3 separate regions of the Homo sapiens genome follow, and all the other regions are linked to region 2. The links come from fine-mapping of genetic effects on gene expression. A gene starts in region 2. Each other region holds a variant in brackets. All regions are shown on one strand. Distances are from middle to middle. Region 1 overlaps KLHL30 (kelch like family member 30). Region 2 holds the start of ESPNL (espin like). Region 3 overlaps ESPNL (espin like).

Evidence for each region.
Region 1: its variant is fine-mapped to the expression of ESPNL in skeletal muscle (GTEx, PIP 0.97).
Region 3: its variant is fine-mapped to the expression of ESPNL in stomach (GTEx, PIP 0.96).

What each region holds. Positions count from the first base shown.
Region 1 is chr2:238,140,244-238,142,992 of GRCh38, reverse strand. KLHL30 (kelch like family member 30) reads right to left here. Exons shown (of 8, transcript NM_198582.4): 2 at 1,465-2,308; 3 at 62-194. The coding sequence starts at 2,238. Among named protein-coding and RNA genes, the nearest start is that of KLHL30, 3.0 kb to the right of the region's middle. RefSeq lists an enhancer at 1,556-2,069. The variant C/T (reference allele first, on the strand shown) is at 1,492.
Region 2 is chr2:238,098,814-238,101,562 of GRCh38, reverse strand. ESPNL (espin like) reads right to left here and starts at 1,223. Exons shown (of 9, transcript NM_194312.4): 1 at 850-1,223. The coding sequence starts at 1,143. SCLY (selenocysteine lyase) reads right to left here. Exons shown (of 12, transcript NM_016510.7): 12 at 2,150-2,749. It overlaps UBE2F-SCLY (UBE2F-SCLY readthrough (NMD candidate)), which reads right to left. Exons shown (of 19, transcript NR_037904.1): 19 at 2,150-2,749. RefSeq lists an enhancer at 2,710-2,749.
Region 3 is chr2:238,127,562-238,130,310 of GRCh38, reverse strand. It overlaps ESPNL (espin like), which reads right to left. Exons shown (of 9, transcript NM_194312.4): 7 at 2,577-2,689; 8 at 1,407-1,604; 9 at 1-183. Among named protein-coding and RNA genes, the nearest start is that of KLHL30, 9.7 kb to the left of the region's middle. The variant T/C (reference allele first, on the strand shown) is at 1,317.

The DNA.
Region 1 (2,749 bases), 41 kb before region 2:
CAGCGGCTCCCGCTGGGACAGAGAGACAGCAGGTGGGTCTGGACGCGGGAGGGGTACTCACTGGCCTTGCTGTTGTAGAAGGCAAAGTTCCCAAGGCCGGGGGTGGGCTCCTCACCTGCCTCCTCCTCCTCCAGCGCCTGCCCGCCCACCACCACCAGGACCTCCTCCAGCTTCTGCTGGAGGGCGAGTGGTGCCTGTGGGGTGGGAGGCCAGGGTCAGGGCAACAGCAATGTGTCCCCATGCCCTGAGCCCCCGCGTGTCCTGGGCAGGCCTCAGCATGTGAGTGCATGTGTGCTTGCATGTTGCTGGAGATGGCGTGTGCCCGAGTGCACAAGCTGCTCCCTCCTTGCACCATGTGCCTTTCAGGGGCATTCCTGGAGTTCCTGAACCATCTTCAGAACCGATCCCATAGCAGGTCCGCAGCGCCACGCATAAGCTTCTCCCTGCCCCTGCTCCCTGGGTGGCCTCCAGCAGGCGGCACGAGGGTGTCCCGGCTCAGTGGGAAATGCTGGCTGTCTTAGGAACGGCCGGTAAGCAGTCACTGCCTAGGTCTCCCAGGACCCCAGGCTCTCCCACAGCCATCCACCCTGGCCCCCCATATGGAACCCCCAGATCTCCCACTGCCAGGAATTAGAATACAAGGTGACCGTCCACGGGCAAGGCTCTGAAGCCAGCTCCAGCAGGAGGCCGGGCGCTCTGTGACTGGCTGGAATCCAGTGGGGACAGGGGTTAGGGTTTAGCCCACTACTCACTCCACCCTTGGCCTGAGGACCATCAGTCTGAGCCACTCTTTGTCCCCGGACTTGGCTCTAAAGGAGTGCCCCGAAGCAAGGCCCCTGAGCAGGGTGCCCGGCAGCTGACCGAACAGCCACTCCCAGACCTGTCATTCCATCATGACCTGCCATGCCTGCCAGGCACACTGCCAGCACAAACAGGAAGTAGCACCCCATAAAAGCTCAGGCGGACTGCCAGGCCTGTCTGTGCCTCCTTGCCTGTGCACAAGCTGCACCTCCTTCCTGGATGGTTTTCCCCTCTTTTCCTCCTTGTGAGCTCCTATCCCTCCTCTAAGGCCCAGCTCAGATGCTGCCTCCTCCAGAGAGCCCTCCTTGACTGCCAGCCCACCCAGAATGCGTCCTAGGCATGTATTTGGCCCTTCCACACTGCCTGAGGTCTGTTTCCAGGCTTGTCCCACTGAGCTGCAGGCTCCTTCAGGACAGGGCCAGATCTTACCACTTCCACATTCCCCTGCCCCTTGCACACAGGGCGTGACACACACAGAGGCATGATCTGCACTTGAGGGCTGAATAGTGATGTCCTCATGGGGAACTGGCCCAAAACAAGGAGCGTGGCAAGGTCAGAGTGCACCTTGGAATGTCCACTCCTTACTCTGTCCCTACTCAGGTGGGGTCTCTGGGGCTCTCCTCCCTGCTTCCCAGGGATGGGGCCTCCCAGCCGCTCACTCACCCCATCATGGCCCTGGGACAGGGCTGC[C/T]CGGCATGCCTCTGACTCCTGGATCAGGGGCTCTGAGGCCAGCAGTTGCTGCACGCAGGGCCTGGGCACGGCGTCCAGGTGCACTAGGCTGAGCAGCTCGGGCAGGTGGGCGGCCCGGGCCTGCGGGTCATGGCGCACCCAGCGCATCAGGGCCTCGAGTCGGCTTTGCTCCGGCTGTACCTGCAGCAGGTCGCCGGCCAGACAAGTGACCAGCCGCTCTCGGGGAAGCTGCAGGAACTCGTCCTCACGTGCCACAGCCTCAAAGTTCTCTCGCAGGAAGGCCCAGGCCTTGGCAGCCACGCCCAGCAGCCCTTGCTGCTCCCCGAACTCACAGATGCCCAGGCAGTTGGCGGCATCCAGTTGCTGCTGCAGGTAGCGGCCGCAGACCTTCTGCACCGAGGGGAAGTGCAGGCGCGCAGCCGTGCGTGTCAGCGCCTCCACGTTGCCCTGCGTGATGGTCAGCCGGCCTGTGTACACGAAGTCCACCAGTTGTCCCACCACGGCGGGCTCCACGTCCCGCAGCTCCACGCGCGCAGAGAAGCTCTCGGCGAAGTCACCCGCAAACATGGCATGGAAGTAGGGGCTGCTGAGCGCCAGGAGGCCGCGGTGGCATGGCAGCTCCCGGCCGCCCACCAGCAGTGTGACGTCGGCCAGCTTGGGCTGAGAGCGCAGGCGCTGCAGGCCATCCAGCATGTCCTGGGCATGCGAGGGCAGGTGGAAATCCAGGTCATCCACGTTCCGCACCATGACGCCGTGCCCAGGGGACCTCAGTAGTCCACCCACTCAAGGGAAGAAGTGCCTGGAGCCGCCCGAGCTCCTAGGAGAGAAGAGAGCAGGGTCAGCCAAGTGGGGATGGTCTCATCCTCCTGAGCAACCCACCCGGTCTGTCCATCAGCCCTTTCCACCCCTTGATAAACACAGGATGGGCATCGACCATATGCCAGTCACTTTACCCCCCATCTGCCTCAAGCCACCCCCAGAACCCTGCAAGGTAGGGCAGGTGTCATTCCCATTTGCAGTGAGGAAATTGAGGTTCAGAGAGGGTGGGAGACCTACCCATGGCCAGGCATTCAGGGCAGAACAGGGTTGGCAAAAGAACCCATGCCCTGGGTGTCATCTGCAACCCTGGGCTACACTGAGCCCACCCCCCAGGGACCCCGGAGACACCCAAACTCCCGGGAGGCGTCCTCCGTCCCAGATCCCACATTGCTGGGGAGGCCATTTGGGGGCTGCAGCAGCTCCTGCTCCCGCGGTGCTC
Region 2 (2,749 bases):
GCCCTCCCGCTGGCCACAGGGTCCCGGGGCCAGGGAGCGTTCCTACCACAGGTGTCAGGGGTCCAGCAGACCTGGGCCTTCTCCAAGGGCCCTGTCAGAATGGATCCCCAGGCAGGCACAGCTCCCGCCTGCTGCCCTTGGGTTTGGCGGAAGGGCCGACAGGAACAGGATGCTGGGCCGGGACTCTCAGGTGCTCTGGCGAGCCAGGTGCTGGGGAACCTTCCCGCTCCGCAGTCTAAGCAGGCCCCACCGGCCCCCACCTCAACTCTGACCTCTGGGCGGCGGCGTTCTAAGGCCGGTCAGTCCTGCTCACCCTCAGCCCTGAAAGCTCCACAGGGCTGAGCGACAGCTCTAAGGGCCTCGCCTGCACAAAGGGGACTGGGCAGGCAGGATAGGGGAGGGGGGCCCAGTAGAAACGATCCGGACAAGACGATCACCATCAGCAGCCCTAACTCCCGTCCCCCAGGGCTAGGCTCCCAGCTCTCAAGCCCAAGTTCCCACAGTGCTTCTGTAAGGATCCCTTTCTAGACCCTTTGGGAGGCAGGCCCTGTGGACCAGGCCTGATCAGAGACAGGGGTCCTGATATCTGGCAAGACCCCCACTGGCAACGCCCAGCTTCCTGGCAGGGAAGGTGATAAGAAAATTTAGGAGGTGTTCTTGGCTCTCAAGCCTTTGTGCTCTGAGAGGCGTGGGGCAGAGACGGTAACCACTGACTGAGTCCCCAAGAGAAACAAAGGGCCCAGGGCCATGGAGCCCGGGGTGGCCAGTACTCTGATCCTCCGTGGCTCACACCTCCCTGGTTCCACCCCAGCCAGCTTCGTGGAGCCAGGCTGCCCCATCCCCGCTCACCTGCAGACCGCAGCCCCCCTCGCGGACCAGCCAGCACAGCTCGGCCAGGCTGCCCGTGGCAGCGGCGTCATGCGCTGGGGTGGCCCCGTTGTGGGCCCGCTGGTTGCCGGGCAGCTGGGCCCGCTGCACCAAGAACTTGACGCAGTCCAGGTGGCCAGCCCGGGTGGCGTGGTGAACCAGGCCGGCCCCCAGAGCATCGGTGATGCCCGGGCCCAGGGCGCCAGCCTCCAGCAGCCGCTCCAACGTCGCCACATCCCCATCCTTGGCGGCCACGAGTGCCCGCTGCTTCTCCATCCTCTGGCCCGGGCTCTCAGTGGCGACTCATGCACAGGCTGGGGCTTCCTGTTTCAGACGTGGATGAAGCTGCCGGCTCTGGTTACCCGATAAGCTGCCACAGGGCAGATGGGAGGCGGTGGGGTGGGGTCGGGTGGGGGGACAGGCCTTGAGGACCTGCCCAAGCCACTCCCACAGTGTGAGGGTGCCAGGTGCCTGGAGCTGGGAGGATGGAGTACAGGGCACAGGGAAAGGCCCACACCAGGCTAGGTCAGGGCTGGGTATGGCCAGCAGAGAAAGGAGGCTGGCCCTGAGGCTGCTCAGATCTGTCCAGATGGCAGGAACTTCATCTGTGGAGCGAGGGCTGAGGATACACGCCACTGAGCTTCTCACAGGAGCCCCGAGTGGCCTGGGAGACAGTTCCCCCAACTCTCACAGAAGGGCAGACCCCCAGCCGCCACCACAGTGTGTCTGAAGTAAAGGGTGCCCAGTAGGTCTACATGTTTGGCTGTGTTGACACCCACAGAGCTGAGCGCCCCGCCTCTGGGTCCCGGCCCTCGGCCCTGGAGGCTCCTAGGAATCTCTGGGGACACAGTGGCTCCACGGGGCCTGCAATGGGCTCAGGACCCTGACTTGGGTGTGTCCAGGCCTCTGAGGCGAGAAGGTGTCAGCCCCTGCCTCGGCCCCCTCTCCAACTACACGGACCAAGTCTCTGGGCTGCAGCCCCAAGGGCCCAAGTACATTTAACCCCTTTCCAGATTGTTCTGGACAATCCATAGTTCTTCTTTAGGGAAGTCAGGACCACCACAGCCTCTTCCTGGCAGCAATGGGAAGCTGCAGATGGGGGACCCATTACATTTGTAGGGGCTTCCGGAGACACAGCCTCAAGCTGGATTTCTGGGCTAACGCATCATCACACAATGGTGACCTGGGGGCTGCTGCACCCCTGGCTTCCCCCCGACAGGCTCTGTCAGATGACTTTGTGCCCAAGCGCAGTGCCCACTAGAGAAACCACAGGATCCCCAAGTCGGGCACTGAAATCTTTTATTCGTTAATTTAGTTTCTGGCAAGTGTTTCCTCAAAATCATCAAGTAGTTCCTTGAACCGTAAAACCACACATTAAAAATGTTATTCCACTGAAAATGACTCCTATGCAAATATCGACATGTGATGTGTGTCCAAATGCCAGAGCATTTTGAGAAAAGAATCCTCTGCAAATAAAATTAAGGTAAAAGCTGAGTCAGGGATGATCCGATTCCCACCCCAGGAATGACCTGGAGCTGCACCAACTCAGCGAGGTTGGAGCTGAAACCCTGAGTTAATAATGATCAAAAGGGACAAGACAGGAAGGCCTGGGGACCGTGGACAGGGAAGTGCGCAGCCCTGATTGCCAGTGGGCGGAACAGGGTCAGGCTCGGGGAAGCAGGAGGGGTGGTGGGCGGTGGGCGCTGAGCAGAGCAGGCCTGGCCGAGGCTGGGGGCCACTGTGCACTGAGGCCAGAGGAGCAGGGTGGTGGGGGCAGCTTTGGAAAGGGACTAAAAAGGGCCTGAGAAGAGACCACTCTGGAAAGGTGCATGTAGAGGCCATGATCAAAACAAAAAAATCAAGTTTCCTACGTTCATGATAG
Region 3 (2,749 bases), 29 kb before region 2:
CCGGCCCAGCTCACTCTCATACTCCTGACAGCGGCGCCGAAGCTGCAGGTCTGCAATCTGCTTCTCCAGGTAGACCAGGTCATCCTCTGTCAGCAGCTCCCCAAAGGGCCCCAGGATGGCCTGATGAGTCTGTGAGTACCTCCAGGCCGCCTGCTCCGTGGGGCCTGAGCTCCCACCATTGTCCTGGGCACAGGAAGGGCAGGGTGAGCAGGGTGAGCCCACCCACCCACCATCAGCCCACCTAGCTTCCAAGTCCCTGAGTTCTCAGTATCTCTGCAGAGCCTCTGGTCCTGCCCCAAGGTAAGACTTTAAAGGGCTTCCCAGCTAGGGCAGAAGCCCCTGACCTGCTCTGCCCGTCTTGCTCTGCTCTCAACCCTGTGGCTTTCAGCCCCTACGGCTCCCAGCCCAACAGGCAAGGACAGGCTGGGCCCTCAGACAGGGCTGTCCCACAGTCCTGAGACGATGGAGACAGGCTGTATTCCAGCAGCCAGGAGCCACCTGTGGCTACAGAAACGACAGGTGGCTGGTGCGACGGAGGGGCAGGACTTTTACTTTCCTTAAATTGTAATGAATTTCAGTGGCTGCATGTGGCTGGCAGGATTGCGCTGGACACAGCGCTGGGCCGGGGGCACAGAACTCAATCATCTTGACAAAATCATAGGACTCTGAGGACATAATTCCTGAACTCCTGTCTGCACAGCAGCCCGGGGAGCCTGTTAAAATCCAAGGCACATCACAGCCCTTCTCTGCTCAGATTCTCAGTGGCTCCCCACGGCCTCACAGAGGTGCAATAATCCCAGCCAGGTTCCTCTCCAACCTCAGGCGCCCACTCCATGCCAGGGCGCCTCCTCCTGCTCCTCCCCCGGCCAGCCCGGCCTCAGGACCCTTGCACTGGCTGTTCCCTCTGCCTAGGAGGTGCTTGCCCCAAATTCCCACAGGGCTCCCCCTCTCTTCCCTCTGGCCCCTGCTCAAGGCCACGTCCCCAGAGGGGGCCCCCTAAGCACCCATATATCATAGTCCCCCAACTGCTTTGCTTTCTCCACAGCAGTGGGAATCGCACCCCACACACCTGCCGGCACCTGCCCATGGGCCACCGTCTTCCCTGCTAGACGCTGCGCCCAGGAAGGCCTAGAACAACGCTTGGCACAGGCAGGCATGTGCCACAAATCCGCCAAGTGGAAGGATACGTGGGACCCATGCCTCCAGAGCAGGTGAAGGGGCTCTGCTCAGAGTCCTCTGGTCAGGTTCACTTCATCCTCCGGCGGAAGCAGCAGCTGAGGCCACAGAGGAGAGGGGCCCCTGGGTCTTGGATTCAG[T/C]TCTGGGCTTCGGGCGCCCTGACTTCCACTTCCACCTACCTGGAAAAGGCCCCGCCCCGCCCACTGGTCCCGCCCCTGCCGGGGGCCTACCTGGGCCTCTGCGGAGCTCTCTGCGCCCAGGCGCGCCTGCAGCTTCCGCACCATCACCTGCCGCTTCCACTCTGGGATGGGCTGGCCGCGCTCATCCCGCGTGGGCACCAGCCCGTCGATGTCGCCTGAGGGCAGCCCATCCAGCTGTAGTGCGGCCAGGCCATCTGAGGTGTCCCCCGCCAGCGCCGTCTCTGTCCCCTGTGCAGAAGGGGGTGGGTCACACAGGCCCGAAGGGGACCCAGGCCCTGAGTGGAGGGAAGATCCGAGAGGACGTGGGGGGTTGGCTCCGCCCAGGGCACGCTAACAGGGCGCCCTGAGAGGAGGGACAGTGGGGGCCACGGACAGCACCCCACCCCCTCATCCCCAGCTTAAGAGTGAGGCCTCAGAGGGGAGGGACTGGAGGGGGCGGGGTAAGATGTGTGTGAGGGGATTGTCGGCAGAGAAATGAAACCAGAGGTCCCTCCCCGTCCCCTGTGCAAGCCCAGCAGATGCTCGCGGAGCGCACCGTATCCCTGGGCAAACTTGCTCTGGGCACAGCTACATAGACAAAGCCTGGCAGCCAATCCTGTGCCGCGGAGGGCTTGTCAGAGCCTTCAATGTGCCGTGCGCGCTCCAGCTCTCCACGACGGGCAGCAGCGCCACGTGGCGTTTCCCAGACTCCCACCGAACACCTCAATGGTTGAGAATCTGCAGTACCACGCAGGGAAAGTCTGGGCTGGCTTTCTAAGGGCCCGGCGCCCAGGAAAGGGAGAGTAAGGGGGAGCAGGACCCTTCTGCTGGTCTGGGCTGGCCGAGGCCCTGAGGAGGAGGACGGTGGCAGCGGGGCCCTGCCCATGGATGGCTGCTGCGATCTCCGCACTCCAAGCGGGCACGGAGCACCCCTGAGCTCAGAGGTCAGGGAGAGGGGCCTGGGCCACTGCAGCCCTCTGGGATAACAGAGAAGGGTCCCCGTGTTTCTGTGGTGGGGGGGACAGCTGCCGTCGCCCTGACATTCCTGTCTCTTCAGAACTCAGGGTGTTCTCGAGAGCAGCGGAGTGACGCAGGCAGCCTGGCATCCACCCTTCAGGAAAGGCCTGGCTGTGCTGGGGGCTTCTCTGGGCCCCTAAGAGGATGGGAATGGAGGCTGGCTAGGGGCCCCGGGAGACAGGAATGCAGGGGTGGAGGACGAACCTCGGGGTCAGCCGTGGCACTGGTGATGATCCTCGGAGGGGCCGGGCTGGTCATCTGCTCCCTGGGAAGAGGCTGGTCAGGATGGCCAGGCCAGGCCGGGCTGAGGGACATGGCTGCCAAGAAGAAGAAGGGTGTTGCAGAAAGGGCAAGGGCTGGGGAGCAGAGACCCAGAG